2 separate regions of the Homo sapiens genome follow, and region 2 is linked to region 1. Evidence: fine-mapped expression QTL. Tissue or cell type: whole blood. Region 1 holds a variant in brackets; the other region holds the start of a gene. All regions are shown on one strand. Distances are from middle to middle.

Region 1 (8,104 bases):
TGAGAGGAGGTGAGAAAGAGGCCATGTCCCACTCTCCTGTGCTTCCAGGGATCAGAATTTCCCTCCCTATTAGGGAAATGCGTTTAAAAAAAAAAAAAAAACACGCCAGTTTGGTTGGGATGTTTTTAGTATGCTAAAACGTTTATGTTTACCCAGCTCATGAGTCAGAAGTTATTTTGCTGCTTATAAATTCATTTTGCCATAGTATGATAAATAGCTTTTAATGTTGTAAGCAAATAGGGCATTGGATAGCAGCACTAAGTCATTGAAAACAAAAACTTCTTTATTGGTGTTTGGTTTTTATATAGTTTAGGGAAAGGCTCTTTAAACCAAGTTTCAGGTGAAAAAATGAAAAAACTTTTTAAGGATTTTAGATAACATGCCAAGCACAGTGACTCATGCCTGTAATCCCAGTAGTGAATCTGAGAAGCGCAGGCTTCCCAGATCGCTTGAGCTCAGGAGTTGAAGACCAGCCTGGGCAACATAATGAGATCCCGTCTGTACAAATAATTTAAAAATTAGCCAGCCATGGTGGTGTGCGCCTATAGTTCTAGCTATTTGGGAGGCTCAGGCTGGACGCTGAGCCTGGAGGACCACTTGAACCCAGGAGTTGGGGCTGAGTGAGCCATGATCGTGCCACTGTACTTCAGCCTGAGTGACAGAGTGAGATCCTGATGCTTAAGTTTAAAAAAAAAAAAAAAGATTTTAGATAACAACTATGGAAATGAAATCATTTTCGTTTGGTTTATATCTTCTCCACATCTTTTCTAACTTTGCGTTCTATTCTTAACCCTAAGGTAAAAATGCATTTGCAAAGGGAGAAAATGAAGGCCAAACAGAAGCAGGCTCCAGCTTCTGCAAAAACTTGGATTCACAAATGTCCCTGAACAGAAAATGAAGCTCACTTCAGAACACACACTCTCTGCCTTGAAAACTAAAGAGACTATTACTTCCTTTTCACATGACCACAAGTCCTCTGATGGAAATGTACAGCAGAAACTCTTGAGAGAGAGGCTAAAAGCAACTCTGTTCTCCCCCTTCCCCTAGACTTTTCTTACGAAAAGTCAATAATTAAGCAAATTGCTTAACACTTGGTTCCAGTTCCTGCCTATCTGGAGTTTAAATGCGTAATACACCATTAATTTCCACGCTGCAGTTTTTATTTTAAAGAAAGTAACAAGATGTCTTTACACTGACACTGAAAATTCATCCATTTTAGAGCCAGGAATTCCCATGTTACACAGGAAAAAATAGAAGTCTACTGAATTAATTTTTTAAAAGAAAAGAGATCAGATTAAATATTTCTTTGTTTTTCCTTTTGGAAACTTTTATGTATAATTCTTTCTGCCTGCCTACTTTTCTGCAAAAATGAGATGTACAGATTTCGGTTCCCTGCTATGAAAAGTGATGTGGTAGCAATTTTATAAATGTTGCTTTCTGATTTTTATCAGAGTGAGAAAATTAAAATTATTGATTTGCAAGTAGTAAACAGTTCATATTTTGATTTCCCCTCATTTTAGTTTAATATAATTTGCAATAAATGTACATATTGTTGTTTGTTTCATAAAGCATATCACTTTAAAATGGTTTTTACTCCTGTGATTATGTTGGAATATTTGGAATTTTAAAGGAGTAAAGACTGTCCAGCATTTGGTTTTATAATGTTTGTCACCAGATTTTTATTAATGTAAAAAAAATCAATTTTTAAAAAATAGTTGGACTTTGGCAGCTTTTAAGGAAAGTTGGAGGTGTTTTAGGATTGCTATCAATTTTCAGCATTGTGCTATTTGGAAATAAGTGTTTTGCTTTTGTCTGATGGTCTGGGCTCATTTTTATGTTTATTTTAGAAAACTGTTGCATCAATATATTATGTTTCTTGGCATTGTTCAGCATAGGTAATGTGTGCACTTTATGTGTACACATAATCATATTTAAGTTTTTTGCATAAAATAAATGCTTCTAGATGTCATGGCAGTCTTTTTAATCTTTTTATCATATGCTTTCTTGTGAATTTTTTCATGTTAAAGAGCTAAAGTCATAACATGATTACAGTCAACTCTCCATTATCTATATAAAATAGTGACTAAGCCTCAGGTTTTTAATTTTGTGATAACAAAATAACGAAGGCATGTAAGACCTGATTCTGGAGGAACATGAAATTTGTCTTTTCTCATGTCCAGAGTTCTATCCTGCCCCCACTGTCCACTGTAGGGTCATCCGCAAAGCCCTAGCAGAATGTGCTCACTCCATTTCCTTACACGTTTCTAGCATGGGTCAGAGGAAACAACATTTGTGTTATAACTTCGTCTTGATAGGCTGTAGTGTACATGGGATGTAAAACAAACAAGTGTATCAAAGGTGGATGATTCTGTTAGAGTGAAGTTTGAGAGTAAATGTCACTTACGTTTCTCATAGATAATCAAGAGTTGGCTGTGTATTGACTGAAAGATGGGTAATTATTTTAAATATGCATTTACACACATTTAGGTATCAGAAGATGCTTAGGGAACAATGGATACCAATGATAGAAAATGATACCTTTACAGGGGCAGAAAAATCCCCACTCTTCCTTATTGCCTCTTCAGAACCCTTTAGAAAGTATAAAATATTGCCTCCAACATGCTGAAAAAGAGTATCTATGCATAAGTATCAGAGAAGTCCCTCAAGCAATCAGTAGGTGTGTTCTATTTAGAGAGAGTTTAAAGTTCTCTTAGCATCAGACAACTTGATTCCTAAGGTTTCCAGTGTGTCACCAACAAAAAGTGCATTGATAGGGACCTTTGTCTCTTCCTCCCTTTGATTAATTGCCCGGCATCACAGTTTACTAGATTACCAAGTGTTACATCATATTAAATAAAATGTAGCAGAACCATCTGCATCAATATATTCCTGTTTAGATTTTTGCAGGAGAGAAGTTAAAAGGATTTGCTCCTTGTATGATGTAAGTGGCCCACCCCAATTTTGTAACATGATGCAAGTGTCTGGCACTAAGGGAAGCAAGAGTAGGGTTGTGGAAAGACCAAGCTGATGGGGAGGGACTTGTTTACGGGAATTTTTTTAGTTTTCCTTTTCAAAGGAAAACATTAAAATCCCTTAGGAATTTGGTATTCACATCTCAGAGAACTACAACACAAAAGTGCAGACTTATATTTGAGAATTAATGTTAACCCTTTGTGTCTAGTTTGAAGCTTCTTGTATTTGTCTAAAACAACAAGCCAGAATTTTGTATCTCCTTTGATAAAAAGTGT[G/A]TATAATGTAAAGTAGTTTTGCATATTCTTGTGCTGCACATGGGCTGAATTTTTAAATTTTTTTTAAAAACTTGAAGCAGAACCTTGTAATTTGTGTAAATGACAAGTGTAAAATCCTACCATAAAATGCTAAAAATATGCACTGTTTCAAATAAAACCAAGAAATGCAGCATTATATAGTAGTGTGGAGCCCTGAATATTCATGTACCCCTGGTATGTCACAAGTTGATAAAATGTCTCTGCATATTTTCTGTTGAGATGCTGGAGTCTGAATATCCTAATTAGAAATCAAAAGCCACCTTCAAACTTCCTGGCTGGGTACTCTGAGGTAGCTTACAGTGGCTAAGGAAGAACATAGTGGATGATAAATTCTGAGGCACATTCGGAATTTCCAAACGAGGTTTGTTTTAGGGGGTGGCTTTTTTTTTGAAATGAGATCTTACCCTGTTGCCCAGGCTGGAGTGCAATGACATGATCATGGCTCACTGTAGCAATCCTCCTGCCCCAGGCTCCTAGAAAAGTGCTGGGATTACAGGCCTGAGCCACCAGACCTGGCCAAGAAGTTATTTTTTTAACCTAAGAATTTAATAGCAGCCTTTGATTCATATTAGTCTATGGTTCATCCATTCATTGCAAGTTCTGCACTCACATATTTAGTTCCATAACAAATTCAAGAGAGCAAGCAGATTACATAAATGTATCTGGAGTAAGAGGTGACCAGAACGAGAGGTAAGAAAGTCTATCATGGCTGGGCGCAGTGAGTCACACCTTTAATCCCAGCACTTTGGGAGGGTGGCCGAGGCAGGTAGGTCACTTGACCTAAAGAGTTCAAGACTGGCCTGGGCAACATGGTGAACCCTGTCTCTACCGAAAATACAAAAATCAGCCGAGTGTGGTGGTGCACACCTGTAGTCCCAGTTACTCAGGAGACTGAGGTGGGAGAATCCGTTGAGCCTGGGAGTCGTCGGTTGCAGTGAGCCAAGATCACACCACTGCACTCTAGCCTGGGCAACAGAGCAAAACTGTTTCAAAAATAAATAGGCCAGGCGTGGTGGCTCATGGCTGTAATCCCAGCACTTTGGGAGGCTGAGGCAGGTGGATCACCTGAGGTCAGGAGTTCGAGACCAGCCTGACCAACATGGAGAAATCCCGTCTTGAATAAAAATACAAAAAAATTAGCCAGACTTGGTGGCGCATGCCTGTAATCCCAGCTACGTGGGAGGCTGAGGCAGGAGAATCACTTGAACCTGGGAAGCGGAGGTTGTGGTGAGCCGAGATTGCGCCATTGCACTCCAGCCTGGGCAATAAGAATGAAACTGTCTCAAAAATAATAGGCTGGGCACGGTGGCTCACACCTGTGATCCCAGCACTTTGGGAGGCTGAGGCAGGCAGATCACCTGAGGTCAGGAGTTTGAGACCAGCCTCGTCAACATAGTGAAACCCTGTCTCTACTAAAGATAAAAAAAATTAGCCAGGCATACTGGCGCACGCCTGTAGTCCCAGCTTCGCGGGAGACTGAGGCAGGAGAATCGCTTGAACCAGGGAGGCGGAGGTTGCAGTGAGCCAAGATTGTGCCACTACACTCCAGCCTGGGCAACAGAGCGAGACTCCGTCTCAAAATAAGTAAATAAAGGCCTGAAACGTACATTTTGCACCACTGCACTCCAGCCTGAGTGACAGGCTGAGACCCTGTCTCAAAAAAAAAAGGAAAAGCTATCATGCCTAGTTTTGTATTTTACCCATAATGGGTTGACCTTCCACCCCCAATACTTGCACTGACAAGACTTTTTTGTCTTTGCTACTCACATGAACTGTCCTGCTCTGACAAGCAGCTTTGTAGCCTGCTTAGGTAACGGTGACAGCATTTCCTACAAGGAGTTCGCTATAAGCCAGCAAGGTAGGGAGGATGGAAATGAGAGTGCAGAATCAAGTGCCTTTCTGCTGTAAACCATACCTTCAACTTTTCATTCCCATGAGAGTAATAACCTTCATTTATTTCACTATTGTATCATAGTTCAAAGTCTTAGCAGGGCAACATACAACCCATCTCTACCAAAAAATTAAAAAAATAAGACAGGCATGGTGGTGCGTGCCTGTTTTCCCAGCTTCTCGGGAGGCTGAGGTGGGACGATTGCTTGAGTCCAGGAGGCAGAGGCTGCAGTAAACTGAGATCACACCACTGCATTCCAGCCTGGGTGACCAAGACCTTGTGTCAAAGAAAAAAAAGCCTAACGGGAACATATACAGGTCTCATTTCTAAGGAACCTGGGCCAGGCTGCTGATCAGTACTTCAGTTTTGGGGTGTTTCTCAAATGTTTCTTTATCAATACTGATTGCTAACTTATCTCCCCTCATTCTCTGGTTACTCCTGTTGTTCTTGAGCAAGGACCGTGTCATTCTGAATAAAACCTGTTATTTTTAGTAAATAGCACTACATCCATTCTTCCTGAAGAAGCTTGAATAGTGACATGGTTTGGCTCTTTGTCCTCACCCAAATCTCATCTCAAATTGCCATCCCCCACATGTCGAGGGAGGGACCTAGTGGGAGGTGATTGAATCTGGGGCGGTTTCCCCCATGCTGTTCTCTTGATAGTGGTTCTCATGAGATCTGATGGTTTAAAAGGTGTGGCCCTTCCTTGCTCTGGCTCTCCCCTGCTGCCGTATAAGAAGTGCCTTGCTTCCCTTTCCCCTTCCACCATGATTAAGTTTCCTGAGGCTTCCCCAGCCATCCGGAACTGAGTCAATTAAACCTTTCCTTTCTAAATTACCCAGTCTCAGGCAGGCTTTTGTTTTCTTTTGTTTTGTTTTGTTTTTTTGTTTTTGAGACGGAGTTTTGCTCTTGTTGCCCAGGCTGGAGTGCAATGGTGCGATCTCAGCTCACTGCAACCTCCGCCTCCTGGGTTCAAGCGATTCTCCTGCCTCAGTCTCCTGAGTAGTAGTATTTTTAGTAGAGACGGGGTTTCACCATATTGGTCATGCTGGTCTCGAACTCCTGACCTCAGGTGATCCACCCGCCTCAGCCTCCCAAAGTGCTGGGATTACAGCCATGAGCCACTGCACCCAGCTTCAGGGAGTTCTTTATAGCAGCATGAGAATGGACTAATACAAAAAAAACCACTAGAAGTCAGTAAGACATGTAAGGAGCCACCGTAGTGCTGATTCTGGATCTGCAAAAGCCAACTAGAAAATAGGGAGTCGCCATTTTTCATCATTTCAGGCATTTGTAATCTGTAGAGACTAGGCACGATGCCAGGAGCCGACATTAAAAACACCAGGATTGGTGCCTTACAAGGACTAGCAACATAACACAGGCAGCTGCGACTGTTCCAGGTGATACATTTTGTGTGGACTTCAGAACCCTGATGGATGCCGTAGAAGCAGAAAATCCTCACCTTTTCTACTGAAGTGCAATTCTGAGAACTGTTATGAGCATGTAGGTGTCTAAAGAAGTGACTGGGCCAGGCGCAGTGGCTCACGCCTGTAATCCCAGCACTTTAGGAGGTCGAGGTGGGCGGATCACCTAAGGTCAGGAGTTCAACACCAGCCTGACCAACATGGAGAAACCATCTCTACCAAAAATACAAAATTAGCCAGATGTGCTGGCACATGCCTGTAATCCCAGCTACTTGGGAGGCTGAGAGGAGAATCGCTTGAACCCGGGAGGCAGAGGTTGTGGTGAGTCAAGATCGCGCTCACCGCACTCCAGCCTGGGCAACAAGAGTAAAACTCCGTTTCAAAAAAAAAAAAAAAAAGAAGAAGTGACTGGCCTGAGCAAACTGCCCTACCTCAGGGCACAAGGAGCTGGGCCTGAAGCTGGAGGTGGCTCTCCAGGCTGAGGGCTGGGGAAAGACAAGAAGGCCACCACTTCAGCGAATCCCAACACTCCTTAAACCTCCCTGGGCCTTAAACTTCCCTGCTCTGGGGAAGAGCTGGTCCCAGCCCTGAAACCTCTCTATCCACTGTAGTCCTGAGGGACAGGGGACACGCCCCACTCAAAGCACAAATTCTGTGTGTCAGTAATTCCTGTGGCTCCTTTGGACAAATTTTGTGCCACCTTAGGAGCTTAGTGGACTTCTCCAAAGCAAGGCAGCCCGCGAAGCACCCATTTTTCAGAGCCTTTTTGAAGAGCTCCACCCTGGTGGCCCCCCAACCCCTACCCCAAGAAAACCCTGGCAGTTTAGCCTTCTGGATGCATCTGGCATGTCCCCTCCAAGAGGAAGGTCAACCGCAGGGACTGAAAGGAAGCTGTCCCTTTGCAACCCACCTCAGGCCAAAAGCTGAAAAGCAAAATACTGGTTACCCCAAAACTGCCTTACTTTTAGATGTAGGCCGGACCCAGGGACTAAGGGCTCTGCATTTTTTGACCATTTGGCAGCTCGGCTGCCCATGGAAGCTTATAATTACGAGCACAGGATCTGTCTTTTTAGAAGCCATGGCTCATTAGGGATATTAAAAGTAGACTGGTTCTCATTTTCTTTTTGTTTTTTTTGAGACAGAGTCTGGCTCTGTCGCCCAGGCTGGAGTGCAGTGGTGCAATCTCGGCTCACTGCAAGCTCCACCTCCCGGGTTTGCGCCATTCTCCTGCCTCAGGCTCCCGACTAGCTGGGACTACAGGCGCCCGCCACCACGCCCGGATAATTTTTGTATTTTTAGTAGAGATGGGGTTTCACCGTGTTAGCCAGGATGGTCTCGATCTCCTGACCTTGTGATCCACTCGCCTCATCCTCCCAAAGTGCTGGGATTACAGGCATGAGCCACCGCGCCCGGCCTCATTTTCTTCTCTCTACACATACACAGCTTGGAGGTTGTCTTAATGACAAGGCATCCACACAGCATGGTAGTCGAACATTTCTCAG
Region 2 (8,104 bases), 160 kb before region 1:
AAGGCGGGCGGATCACCTGAGGTCGGGAGTTCAAGAGCAGCCTGGCCAACATGGTGAAATCCCATCACACTAAAAATACAAAAAATTGCTGGGCATGGTGGTGCGTGCCTGTAATCACAGCTACTAGGGAAGCTGAGGCAAGAGAATCACTTGAACCTGGGAGGCAGAGGTTGCAGTGAGCCGAGACTGCAACACTGCACTCCAGCCTGGGCGACAGAAAAAAAAATTAAGTTATGTATTCCTCATAATGATCATGTGAGGAAGATACTATCATTATCCTTGTTTTACAGATGAAGAAAATGAGGCACAGAAGAATTAAGTGGTTTGACCAACATTGCCTAACTCAGGACATACATCATATCACCTCTTTGCTTAAAACAGTCCATTAGTTCCCCACCTCAATCAGAGGATAGCCACAGTCTTACCAGAGGTCTAAAAGGCTACATGTGATCTGTACTCTCTCTCACTCCAGGGAGTCTCACTCTGTCGCCCAGGCTGGAGTGCAGTGGTGCTTTCTCAGCTCGCTGCAACCTCCATCTCCCCGGTTCAAACGATTCTCCTGCCTCAGCCTTCTTAGTAGCTGGGATTACAGACATGTGCCAGTGCGCCTGCCTAATTTTTGTATTTTTAGTGGAGACAGGGTTTCACCATGTTGGTCAGGCTGGTCTGGAACTCCTGACCTCAGGTGATCCACCCACCTCGGCTTCCCAAAGTGCTGGGATTACAGTCCTGAGCCACCGTGCCTGAGCCACTGAGTCTAATTTTTTGTCTTTTTAATAGAGATGGGGTTTCACCATGCTGGCCAGGCTGGTCTGAAACTCGTGACCTCAAATAGTCTGCCTGCCTCCCCCTCCCAAAGTGCTGGGATTACAGGTGCGAGCCACCGTGCCCAACTCTTCCCTACTTTATTTTCATATACATGTATTATTGTTATTTTGGTCTATTTCTCCCCAAACAAATTAAGGTCCACCAGGAGGGCAGGCCTTCATTTGTGAAACAATTATTTAAAGAGGCCTATAATATAAGGCATTGTTTTGGGCACTGAGCGGGGAAGAAAAGCTTGGTGGAGGTTGGGTGCAGTGGCTCATGCCTGTAATTCCAGCACTTTGGGAGCCCAAGGTGGGTGGATCACCTAAGGTCAAGAGTTCGAGACCAGGCTGGCCAACATGGTAAAACCCTGTCTCTACTAAAAGTACAAAAATTAGCCAGGCGTGGTGGCGCATGCCTGTAGTCCCAGATCTTGGGAGGCTGACGCAGGAGATCTGCTTGAACCCAGGAGGCGTAGGTTGCAGTGCGCCCAGATTGTACCACTGCACTCCAGCCTGGGCAACAGAGCAAGACTTCGTCTCGAAAAAATAAAATAGGCCAGGCGCAGGGGCTCACACCTGTAATCCCAGCACTTTGGGAGGCCGAGGCGGGCAAATCACGAGGTCAGGAATTCGAGATCAGCCTGGCCAATATGGTGAAACTCCATCTCTACTAAAAATATAAAAATAAGCTGGGCGTGGTGGTGTACGCCTGTAGTCCCAGCTACTTGGGAGACTGAGGCAGATGAATCGCTTGAACCTGGGAGGCAGAGGTGAAGTGAACCGAGATCGCACCACTGCACTCAAGCCTGGTGATAGAGTGAGACTCCATGTTAAAAAAAAAAAAAAAGAAATCAACCAGTAAGGCCAGGCACGGTGGCTCAAGCCTGTAATCCCAGCACTTTGGGAGGGTGAGGCGGGCAGATTACCTGAGGTCAGGAGTTTGAGACCAGCCTGACCAACATGGTGAAACCCTGTCTCTACTAAAAATAACAAAAATTAGCCGGGCATAGTGGCGGGCGCCTGTAATCCCAGCTACTTGGGAGGGTGAGGCAGGAGAATTGCTTGAACCCAGAAGTCAGAGGTTGTAGTGAGCCAAGATCACACCACCACACTCCAGCCTGGGCGACAGAGGGAGACTCTGTCTCAAAAAAAAATTAGCCCGGTATGGTGGCACACACCTGTAGTCCCAACTACTTGGGGGCCTGAGGCACAAAAGTCGCTTGAACCTGGGAGGCGGATGCTGTAGTGAGCCGAGATCATGCCACTGCACTGCAGTCTGGGCGACAAAGTGAGACTTCATCTCAAAAAATAATAAAATAATATAAAAAATAAATAAAATAAAATATATGTACATATACAAAACTCCATTTAATAATGGGCAAGCTACTGAGGAGGATGAAAGATAAAATCATTGTTGTTTAATTAAATGTAACACACAAAGAAATATCAAATTTGGCCGGGCGCGGTGGCTCATGCCTGTAATCCCAGCACTCTGGGAGGCCGAGGCGGGCGGATCACTAGCTCAGGAGATCGAGACCATCCTGGCTAACATGGTGAAACCCCGTCTCTACTAAAAATACAAAAAAAAAAAATTAGCCGGGCGTGGTGGCGGGCGCCTGTAGTCCCAGCTACTCGGAAGACTGAGGCAGGAGAATGGCGTGAACCCGGGAGGCAGAGCTTGCAGTGAGCCGATATCACGCCACTGCACTCCAGCCTGGGTGACAGAGTAAGATTCCGTCTCAAAAGAAAAAAATAAATATCAAAAGTGACAGGGAGAGCCTAAAAAGAGAGCAGCTTTTGGTCCACTTAATAGTTTGGATGAGGACACTTTTAAATGGATTCTGCCTGGTACTGTAAATGCCCAAGAACAAAGCATTGACTTTTGGGCAGAGTTCTAGCAAATCAGCAACTGTGGAGTGTCAGATTCGCAATGACTGCTCTTGTGTAATACGTCAAAAACAAGTCAGTGAGCTGAAATGCAGTACCTTTACTATTTTTAAGTTGACGTTAAAGGATGTGGGAAAAAAATAGACCAATGGGTACCCATCAAGAATAATTTGAATAAACAATCGAATATCATTTTAAACTATGGTAGTGGTCAGTTTCAAGAGCTGAATGTGATTTCATATTATCGTATCCTTTTTTCAACTTTCTCTTCGGAAATTTTGTGTATGCTCTTGATTTTTTTTAAATAGGTAAGTGTATGTTCTTGCGTTAATTTGTTTCAATTACATACATTAAATTGCTCAAACACTGCTGCGTGCACTGTTTTTACCTGATAGTGGTTTTCCTTTGGATGACAGAAAACGTTAATGCTTGGTAGGTTTAAAACATTTTTAAAAAATGAGCTCTTCCTTATTTACAAGAATCACCCACCCAATTAATAAATGCTTATTTCTGGGTTCCACTCTCAGAGATTTTTATGTTTATGTATATTTTTATATTTTTTAGTGTTTTATTTTATATGTTATATTTTTATATGTTTTATGTTCATATATATTTTTACGTTAAAAAAACATATATTTTTATGTTTTTTAATCTTTGGAGTTGGAAACCTACGTTTTCAGCCAGTACCCAAAGTGATTGTGAGGCCTGGTGGCCCAAAGACCATACCTTGAGAACGACTCGACCCAATGCTATTTTCATGTTTTGCAGCTTTCAAAATATTAACTTCAGAAATCTAAGGAGGGTGGGCAACTCGGGTGGCTGTCAGAAGACCCGAGAGTGAGCCGCTCACGCTGCGCCCCATTGCACAACTTTCCTTGACTTTGCAGATCTCTCCCTGAGGAGGAAATCAGTTCATTTTCACCGAGCAATTAACTACCTCCCAACCAGTTTCGTCTATGTCCCTCAGGATGACCCCCAAAAGTCACCAGCTCATCGCCGCTGCGAAAGATAAAGCACTGTTTGCCCTGCGTGCCCTCGCAAGGCCGCGGGAACCTGGGCTCGCTTCCCGCCACCCGGGCTCCTCCTCCTCTCGCCCTCTCCGGTCGGGTCCTCCGGGAGGCGCCCCGCGCGGCAGGTATTGGCGCCAACCGGGTGGCGGCGCTGTCCGCCCTGCGCGCGGCCGCCTCGGGCCCGAGGGAGGCGGATGCACGGCCGGCGGAGGAAGGGGAGGGAGCGAGGAGCGCGCGCTGCTCTCGCGTGCTCTCGCGCCGCTCGCGTGACCGGCCGGTGTGTGCGCGAGGCCCCGGCTCCCGGGGCACGGACGGCCGGGCGCGCGCCTCTGCGAGGGGCGTCCGGGTCCGAGTCGGCGGTCCGGGCCGGCGCGAGGTGCGTGCGGGCGGGCCGCGGGGGTCCCGGACGGACACAAGCGCACACACTCCCGGAGGAGCCTTCGAGGCTGCTCTTCCTCGGCCAGACGGAGAGCGGCACTGTCTCCCCGCCCAGCGCTCACTCGCCCCGCGTCTCCCCCCGCGGCGGCTGCTCCTCCTCGGCACCGCCAGCCCCAGCGCCGCTCCCGGGCGGGCGGGCGGCGGCGGCGGCGGCGGCGGGACCCGCGGAGCCGCTTTGTGTGCAGCCCGACTAGGGGCGGCGGCGCAACCACCTGACAGAGGCCCGGGCGCTCGATGCACCTTCCGCCCGCATGAGGAGGAGGTAAAGGCGGCGGCGGCTCGGCTCCCGCCCTAGGCTGCTGGAGGGAGGGGACGGAAGGGGAGACTGGAGGGGGGGGCCGCGGGTCCGAGGCCCGGTGGGGCCGCCCGAGGGTGCCGGGAAGGCCTCGGCGGTGCCGGAGGCGCCAAGCGGCCGGGGGCCAGAGAAGCAGCTGGGGTCCCTCAGCCGAAGTTGAAGGAACAAAATGTGAAGTGCGGAGGCGCGTCAGCCGCTTCCTGGCGTGGGGCTGAGGGTGGAGGGCGGCTTGTTTTCCCCTCCCGCGGGGGTGAGGGAGCGGAACAGGGGAGGGGTGGCAGCGCGGCGGGGACTACCCCGGGTCCGAGGCTCGGCTGGGCAAGGGCGTTTTGTTCCCGGCAGCCGCCGCTGCGCGTGGGTCCGCTGGGTCCCTAGTTTTGCGGCCTAAGCCGAGCCCTATAGGCCTCGGGTCTGGTTTCCCGGAGGGGACTGGCCGGGCGGGACTGGGTGCTTCCCCACCGCCGAGCGGGGGCCTTGGGGTCCTTGCCGGCCTCCCGGGGCCGCCAAACTTCGGACCCTGGTGCTCGGGGGTGGATTTCATTGTGAAAGGCGGAATGGGAAACTCCTGGCGCTGTTCGGCGGCCACGGCGGCTGGTGCGGAGGAGCCCCGTGAGCCTGGGGCTGGCAGGGCCGGGTTGGCGGGGCCGGCGGGGTTCGATCCCTGGGAAAGAGCGGGTGGCGAGGCCGCTGCCGGGTCCCCGGCCTCTGGGGAGACAGGGCCTTTTCCAGATTAGAGAGATTTGAAATGAAAAAAGAGGTTACAAAGTCGCCCCTTTCCCGCTGAACTTTGGTTTTCTGACCGATAGAGGCCGGTAGAGGACTGTGAACCAAAAGTTGTCCCCCAGGATGGACTTCACCGCGCAGCCCAAGCCTGCCACTGCCCTCTGTGGCGTCGTGAGTGCCGACGGGAAGATCGCTTACCCTCCGGGGGTAAAAGAGATCACCGACAAGATCACCACGGACGAGATGATCAAACGCCTGAAGGTAAGTGTCTGGACGGATTTTGATGTCTTTGGTAGAAGGCGCTTTCTCCTGTGATACTGCTACCCTGCTCAGTCTGGCCTTTAAAGTTCCAAGTTTTTTAGATCTCTTACCCCCTCTGAAAGGTACTGTTGTATCTCAGATAACATCTTTGAGTGAGTTTTGTAGGGATATAACCATTGTGGGAAATTTAAAAGGAGTGTGATTTTTCAAAAACTTACTGGTTTTCAAGCATAAGAATTTGTGTTTTTAGAGTTTTTTCTGGAGGTATTTAATGAGAATACTGTTCAGAGTGGCTTGCAAACTTAGGTGTAGGCAGTAATTTGCCTAAGAAGTTTACTATTTTCAGCTTCTGAAGGGGATTGATTAAAGCGCAAAGTCCTTTTTAAAAATTTGCATAATTTTCTATATCCAGAAGCTTAAATATGTATATATGGTGGTTAAACTTTGACAGAAGGTACAGACTTTTCATAATTCAGGCTTAAAGTAAGATGATTTAAGTCTATACGTTCAAAGGAGTTTAAGAGTATTATGGCCCTTTTTATGAGGTGTCAGCTAATTTTGTTTAAGCATGGCAGTCCTAAGGTTAAGGTTTTAAATTTCAACCTCATGTTTGTTAGTTTTTTTGGTTTCTGTTCCACTGACATAGATTGTGGCCAGAATCTTAACAAATAAGTAATATTCTTCTTGTAGGAACAGCTTGAAGCAGTGGTTCTGAGTCAGGGCAACTTTGACCTCCAGGAGATGTTTGGCAATGCTGGAGACATTTTGGTTGTCACAATTGGTGCTAGATTGGAGTAGGGGAAGACCAGAGGCAGTGAGTCCGGCTAGGAAACTGTAAACAGTAGTCTAGGTGAAAGACGTTGAAATCTTCAGGTAGGGCTATGGCATTGGTAATAGTGACTAGGAAATGATTTAACAACTTTTCAGAGTTAGAATCAATCAGAATTGGTGGGAGGTGAGGGAAGCAACATTGTTGACAATGTTTCCACCTTGGGCCACTTGGCCAAATGTATTTTAGGGAATGAGCTTGGCCTCTTGCTCTTGGAGCCCAGTAAATGTACCTAATGTTGCATTTTAATGAGTACAGTATTTAAAATATTCCTGTGGTTTAGTTTTCAGACTCTTAATTTGGTTCTGCAATTTGTTGCCTTTTTGGAAGGAATAAGACAACAGTTCCTTTCATTAAAACAAATCTGTGTGCGGCGGCGGGATCTCAGCTCACTGCAACCTCCACTTCCCAGGTTCAAGCTATTCTGCCTCAGCCTCCCAAGTAGCTGGGACTACCAGCGTGTGCCACCACACCCGGCTAAATTTTTTTTTTTTTTTTTTTTTTGAGACGGAGTCTTGCTCTGTCACCTAGGCTGGAGTGCAGTGGCGCGTCTCGGCCCACTGCAACCTCCACCTCCCGGGTTCAAGCAATTCTGCCTCAGCCTCTCTAGTAGCTGGGATTACAGGTGCCTGCCACCACGCCCAGCTAATTTTTGTATTTTTAGTAGAGATGGGATTTCACTATGTTGGTCACTTTGGTCTCGATCTCCTGACTTCGAATGATCTGCCTGCATCGGCCTCCCAATATGCTGCGATTACAGGTGTGAGCCACTGCTCCCAGCCCCTTTCATTAAAACAAATCTTGGGCCTGGTGTGGTGGCTCCAGCCTGTAATCCCAGCACTTCGGGAGGCCGAGGCAGGCAAATCACCCGAGGTCTGGAGTTCTACTAAAAATACAAAATTAGCTGGGCGTGGTGGCGCATACCTGTAATCCTAGCTACTGGGAGGCTGAGGCAGGAGAATCGCTTGAACCCGGGAGGCGGAAGTTTTGATGAGCGGAGATCGCGCCATTGCACTCCAGCCTGGGCAACAGGAGTGAAACTTCATCTCAAAAAAGTAAAATAAAATAAATAAAGCAAATATTGATACTAAAGATTATACATGAATTGAGCTGCTTGATTGATGCTTCTAAAAGTTACACTGTTTTGGGAGTGAGAAATTATGAAATATAAAACTTAAACAATTGATGGATCGTTAATATTTATTGTTTTCAAATTAAGAATATTGAAACCTTGAATTCTAATGTTGGATAATTTGGTTAAAAAATGGAAAGTTGATGTGTTAGCAACCGCTCTGTTGACATGACTCATGGAACCTGTGAAGAAGCTGGTCTCATAGTATTAAGTGGTGGTATAGGAGCAGCTTGGGGATAGCACCTGGCATATTGGAATGGATGAGGTCTGGCACCCTGAGCAGTCCAGCGAGGACTTGGTCTCAGTAGAGCAGTTTGGCTAGGAGGAGAGTATGCAGCACGGTTTTTATTTATTTTTGAGACAGAGTCTCGCTCTGTCGCCCAGGCTGGAGTGGGTGCGATCTCGGCTCACTGTAAGCTCCGCCTCCCGGGTTCACGCCATTCTCCTGCCTCAGCCTCCCGAGTAGCTGGGACCACGGGCGCCCGCCATCATGCCCGGCTAATTTTTTGTATTTTTTTAGTAGAGACGGGTTTCACCGTGTTAGCCAGGATGGTCTCGATCTCCTGACCTCGTGATCTGCCCCTCTTGGCCTCCCAAAGTGCTGGGATTACAGGCGTGAGCCACCGCGCCCGGTCTTGCAGCACGGTTCTGAGTCTGTGGAATAGCTGCCATGAAGTAACCTGAAGGAGGTGCTGGCTGGTAGGGGTTGATTACATGGTT

What was found. PIP is the estimated chance that this variant, and not a neighbour inherited with it, causes the effect.
Region 2: PDS5A starts here. The variant in region 1 is fine-mapped to the expression of PDS5A in whole blood (INTERVAL, PIP 0.98).

What each region holds. Positions count from the first base shown.
Region 1 is chr4:39,818,182-39,826,285 of GRCh38, reverse strand. It overlaps PDS5A (PDS5 cohesin associated factor A), which reads left to right. Exons shown (of 33, transcript NM_001100399.2): 33 at 798-3,423. The coding sequence ends at 801. Among named protein-coding and RNA genes, the nearest start is that of UBE2K, 120 kb to the right of the region's middle. RefSeq lists an enhancer at 5,550-6,087. The variant G/A (reference allele first, on the strand shown) is at 3,249.
Region 2 is chr4:39,973,759-39,981,862 of GRCh38, reverse strand. PDS5A (PDS5 cohesin associated factor A) reads left to right here and starts at 3,952. Exons shown (of 33, transcript NM_001100399.2): 1 at 3,952-4,406; 2 at 5,246-5,423. The coding sequence starts at 5,286. It also overlaps the pseudogene PABPC1P1. RefSeq lists silencers at 3,728-4,367, 4,418-5,167 and an enhancer at 4,705-5,613.